Linked DNA regions of Homo sapiens: region 2 is linked to region 1. The links come from fine-mapping of genetic effects on gene expression. A gene starts in region 1. The other region holds a variant in brackets. All regions are shown on one strand. Distances are from middle to middle.

Region 1 (2,916 bases):
TTTAGGGATGAGAACACCAAGACCTTGACCTTTTAGTCACACAGAATTGGGGCTCTAATCCGGGTTTCTCTGTTTCCCATCTCATCTATTCCTATCACCCATTGCCGTTATGCCGAGTGGGCACTATTCACGGTATGCGAGCTGATGGCTTTCCTGGCACTCAACACGTTAGAGTACCTAGTGTGATAAGAATAGAATAGTCTGGGGTCTGAAGGAGCTCACAGTCTAGCAGAGACGGGTCTACACACACAAGTAACTCCAATAACGAAAGCAAGACGGTAATAAGTGTTATAAATGGCGGGGGGCGGTGGCTCACGCCTGTAATCCCAACACTTTGGGAGGCCGAGGTGGGCGGATCAAGAGGTCAGGAGATCGAGACCATCCTGGCTAACACGGTGAAACCCCGTCTCTACCAAAAATACAAAAAAAATTAGCTTGGCGTGGTGGCGGGCGCCTGTAGTCCCAGCTACTTGGGAGGCTGAGGCAGGAGAATGGCGTGAACCCAGGAGGCAGAGCTTGCAGTGAGCCGAGATCGCGCCACTGCACTCCAGCCTGGGCGACAGAGTGAGACTCCGTCTCAAAAAAAAAAGTATTATAAATGAGGTGCTACAGAGGAGAGGAATCTTTTCCGTCCAGAAGAGAGAGATATGGTGATGGGAAGGGAGCAAGGAAGTCCTCATCTAGGAGTCCAACCCCCCAGAATGGCAGGTAGGCACTCCCTAGTAGGTGTTCAATAAATATTCGTGTCTTCGTCCCTTCACATTCTAACCCCAGTCTAACTTTCCTTCAGCCTACCAAAGCCCTGTGTTCCTCCACAGAATGCCGCTTCGTGCCACTGTGCCTTCTGCATCCCCAGTTCTCTCCTCCTGGAATGGAATGTTCTTGCCAATAATGAGCGAGCGGTGCCATGAAACAGAGCTCGGGAGGGTACACAGCATAACAGTTAAGCGCGCAGGCTATCGAGGCCAGCCTTCGGCCCATCCGTAAAAAGGAGATAAGATTTATTTCATAAGGCTGCACCGTGGATTAAATGGACATTCCGGTAAAGCTTTTATTTCAGTCCAGCGCGGAAGGAGGGCTCAAGTAATACTCGCAACGTTTGTGCGAGCGTGGCCACCTTCTCCGCCCGTCCCGTCTCCCCGGCGCCGCTCAAGAGCCGCCCCCTGTCCGCCTCAGCGGCGCCCAGGCACCCAGCAGCGTCCGCGCTGCCACGTCGCCTTCGCTCACCCCAGCAACAGCCGGGTTGACCAGACCGGGGCCCTGAGCTGGGTACCCAGGGCACCGGGCCGCGCCCCACACCCTGCCTGCGCCTTCCGATTGGCTCCTGCAGGTGCCCGTCGTCAGAGGCCGTTGCTGATTGGCTTAGATGGGGGACGGGGCGGGCCTCTAGGAGTGAAGGAAAGGCGGGGACCCGGATGTGTGTGGTGGCGGCGGCCGAAGAGCTTGTGTGCGGAGCTGAGAGGCCTATGGATGAGGAGGACGCGGCGGCCCCGGTAGGCGGGGATCGGGGGCGGGGTCCCGGAGGCCTCGTATCTCCCCGGAGCCTGAAGCGGAAGGCGGGGGTCCTGGGCGGGGGCTCTGGGGCCAGGGGCGGGGCCCTGCGCTCTGGTCACTGGGCTTCTTCTGTTGCTGCACCCTCGGCCCAGTGCAGGGCCTGGGGAGACTGGGCGTAGGCACACGGATGGGCTGGGGCCCGGCTGCTCCCGGGTCTCATCTCAGTGATCAGGCCGTGCCCGGGGAGGAGACAGGGCCCAGTAGGGCCGCCACTCGCCGGTGCCAAGACTGTGGGGTCTGCGCAACCAGCATCTACCTGGGGTTGAGTCCTGGCTGAGTGCCCGGGAGTGGAATCTTAGGGCTGTCTGTCCCACAGGTGCCTACTCTTCTGGGCCACGTGGTGGGTTGTAGCTACTGCATAAGAGTCGTAATTTGCGTATTGGGATCAAATTCAGCCCAGCCAAGGCTTACTAAGCACCTACCGTGTGCAAGGCAATGTCAGGCCTCAAGAAAACCCCTGTCCCAGTGTTTAGGGAATGGGAAGAGAAGAGTACTTCACCTCTTTCTCACTTTTGGCTCCCAGGAAAAATCATTCATTCATTTATATGTAGGGACTGATGGTTGTTTAAATACCTGGATCATCCCACCCCCATCCATCGGCGCTGCTACCGACTTAGTGGATGTCATTTCTCATGTGAACTGCTGCAACAACGTCTGAATTGTTTGCCCACATCTGTTCTTGATCCTCTTGTGATCAGTTCTCCAACCAGCAGCTGGAATGATCTTTAGGAACTGATTAAGATCGTGGCTTTTTTTTTTTTTTTTGAGATGGAGTTTCTGTCACCCAGGCTGGAGTGCAGTGGGACGATCTCGGCTCACTGCAAACTCCACCTCCCAGGTTCAAGCAATTCTCTTGCCTCAGCCTCCTGAGTAGCTGGGATTACAGGTGCGCACCACCACGCCTGGCTAATTTGTTTGTATTTTTAGTAGAGATGGGGTTTCACCATGTTGGTCAGGCTGGTCTTCAACTTCTGACCTTGTGATCCTCCCACTTCGGCCTCCCAAAGTGCTGGGATCACAGACGTGAGCCACCAGGCCCAGGATCATGGCATTTTTTTTTCTTTTTTTTTTGAGACAGGGTCTTGCTCTGTCAGCCAGGCTGGAATGTAGTGGCACAATCAGAACTGACTGCAGCCTTGACCTGCCAGACTCAAGCCATCTTCAGTCTCCTTAGTAGCTGGGACTACAGGTGCATGCTGCCACACCTGGCTCATTGTTTTAATTTTTAGTAGAGATGAGGTCTCACTACGTTGCCCAGGCTGGTCTGGGTCCTGGCCTCAAGCGATCCTCCTGCCTCAGCCTCCCAAGGTGCTGGGATTGCAGGCATGAGCCATCATACCCAGCCAATCATGGCATTTCCTT
Region 2 (2,916 bases), 70 kb after region 1:
AATTAAAAGCTACTTTAGGCCAGGTGTGGTGGCTCATGCCTGTAATCCCAGTACTCCGGGAGGCCAAGGTGGGAAGATCACCTGAGGTCGGGAGCTCGAGACCAGCCTGGCCAACATGGTGAAACTCCATCTCTAGAACCGCTTGAACCCAGGAGGTGGAGATTGCAGTGAGCTGAGACCACGCCACTGCACTCCAGCCTGAGCCATAGTGAGACTCTGTCTCAAAACAAAAACAAAAACAAACAAAACAAAAGCTACTTTAAATAATGAATAACAAATGTTTCCCTAAACCAACAACATTGCATAAACACAATCGATCCACCCAGAGTGCCTAGAATTAGACTAATTATATTGGTGTTTACAGCCCAGCCATGAAAAGACATTTCATGCAATGTAATACAATATTTCACCTTCACCTTTACTGCACTATATAGATGCTCCCTGACTTATGATGAGACTGTCAGGATAAACCCTTCTCAAGTAAAAAAATGCATTTACTATCCGGATAAACCCATTGTAAAGTCAAAAAGATCCCAGTGCAAGCCACCTTTTGATTTAGTTGGGGATTGGGTAAGTTTAGCATAGTAAAGACTGAGTCAAAACTCATAAGCTCCACCATCTTGACCCCCGTACGGGTTCAGTTACATGACCTCTCTGTGCCCAATTACTTCATTTTGACAGAAGATGCCATACTACCTTTTCCTTATCCCTCCAGGGATACTCAATTTGATCATATACATAATCAAACAAAATAAGTGCCCAATGCATGCCATGCTAACCATTACACAAAATGGGAGACAGGAGGTACACAAATTCAAGTTAAACTTCTTGATTTGGTACTTTCCCACTATCAGGACCATAGCAGTATCTACTACAAATTTAAGAAACTGGCTCATAAATGTACATAAGGCAAACCTAATTACAAATAATTACTTAAAATACTGTACTCAAGTTCAGTTATTTCCTCTACCATCACGAAAAGAGAATTCCAGAATGTTTTGAGATGAAATATACCTCTTTTTTCAATGACATTACTTAGAAACACTGCTTTATCTTAATTGACACTATTCTGTATTTGTATTTAAACTTTCATAAAGAGTTTTAATTTTGGCCTTCTGGGTATCTTACTCACAGAATAACATATACATGATAGAGGATGGAACTTGACACTAGGGAATCTGTAAGCAATATATAATGGCACCCCTTAAAACCATTTCACTGTGAGAGTCAGCAGTGTATGAAAACAACCACTGCAGAGCATCTTCTCCCTATAAAAATAATCAAATAAGATGTCACACAGGACTGCATTTTGAAGCATTATGGAAATGAAAGGCCTGTGCATGAGCTTACATATGTTATTTCCAATTTTAAAGTTTGTTTTTGTTTTTTTTTTTTGAGACGGAGTCTCGCTCTGTCGCCCAGGCCGGAGGGCAGTGGTGCAATCTCAATTCACTGCAACCTCTGCCTCCTGGATTACAGGCGTGAGCCACCACGCCCAGCCCAAAACCCCGCTAATTTTTGTATTTTTAGTGGAGACTGGGTTTCACCATGTTGGCCAGGCTGGTCTCGAACTCCTGTTCTCAGGTGTTTCACCCACCTCAGCTTCCCAAAGTGCTGGGATTACAGGCATGAGCCACTGCACCCTGCCCAATTTGAAAGCATTTTAAA[T/C]GTTAACCTGTATCAAACGCATTTGATTCCCTCTAGGTAAGGGGACAGCAGATAAATAATGACCACTTTCCAGATAAAGAAACTGAGATTCAAGCGGTAACTGGCTTATTACTGGCAAGTCTACTAAAGTAGTCACAATGAAAATTTAAGAAAAATGAAAAACTTCGTATTTTTAAGATTTTTTTTTGAAATGGAGTCTTGCTCTTTTGCCCAGGCTGGAGTGCAATGGCACAATCTCGGTTCACTGCAATCTCCCCCTCCCAGATTGAAGCGATTCTCCTGCCTCAGCCTCCGGAGTAGCTGGGATTACAAGCACGCGACACCACGCCCAGCTAATTTTTGTATTTTTAGTAGAGACAGAGTTTCACCATGTTGGTCAGGTTGGTCTCCAACTCCTGACCTAGTGATCCGCCCGCCTCGACCTCCCGAAGTGCTGGGATTACAGGCGTGAGCCACCGCGCCCGGCCTTTAAGAATTCTTTTTAAGAAGCAAAGCAAGGAATTAAGTGTACTGGCTCAATGTATCAAGTTTCTAGGAATTCAAACTATCCTCATTCTATAGTTAGTTCTGAGACCTACCTTAGTTCTTGAAGGTCAATAATGGATCACACTGGAAACTGGTATTGCTGCAAAGAATTTTTTGGTCTCATTTAACAGTAAAAGAGGCGTATGAAGTTGTTTTATGTATTTTCACACAGAACACATAACATCCATTTCCCACATCAGGGAATACTGGTTACTTCACAAAGCCAGTGTGACTGGAAAGAGGAGCGGGGAAACAATCCGATAAACCCCAGATTCCTCAAGAACAGACTGAAAGATGTGACTTGTGCTCAGATACCAGTACCAGCTAAAAAGATTTACTGAAGTGAATTAAAGGAGATGAGGGTTTTCAAGGGGGTAGAGTAAATATGGAAGAACAAGAGAATGGGACGTCAGAGTAAATCCCTTTTATCAGTCTGGATTTCCCTCAACTCGGTAAAACGAAGGACATGAATTGCTGTCCTATGTTCCGCCTCTAAAAATTACACAAAAGTTAAGAAAACACAGATTTTCTTCACTAAATTACGATACTAAACTGTTAAGGTGGCAAATCCAGACCAAGTAAGTACTTTAAGCAATGGTTAGTTTAAAATATATTTAGGACTTTTACTAGCCCACTGGAGAAAAAAATATGAACATTTTTGTAAACTTCAGATGCTTTCGGGCAGCGTCCTAAACTGATGATGACACCTTGATACTTTTAAGT

The links.
Region 2: its variant is fine-mapped to the expression of SPRYD3 in whole blood (INTERVAL, PIP above 0.99). The same link has a PIP of 0.9 or more in esophagus muscle, fibroblasts, lung, lymphoblastoid cells, prostate and skeletal muscle.

Annotation. Positions count from the first base shown.
Region 1 is chr12:53,077,888-53,080,803 of GRCh38, reverse strand. SPRYD3 (SPRY domain containing 3) reads left to right here and starts at 1,414. Exons shown (of 11, transcript NM_032840.3): 1 at 1,414-1,493. The coding sequence starts at 1,471. RefSeq lists a silencer at 1,434-1,713.
Region 2 is chr12:53,007,974-53,010,889 of GRCh38, reverse strand. All of the region lies in intron 1 of EIF4B (eukaryotic translation initiation factor 4B), which reads right to left. Among named protein-coding and RNA genes, the nearest start is that of EIF4B, 3.0 kb to the right of the region's middle. The variant T/C (reference allele first, on the strand shown) is at 1,669.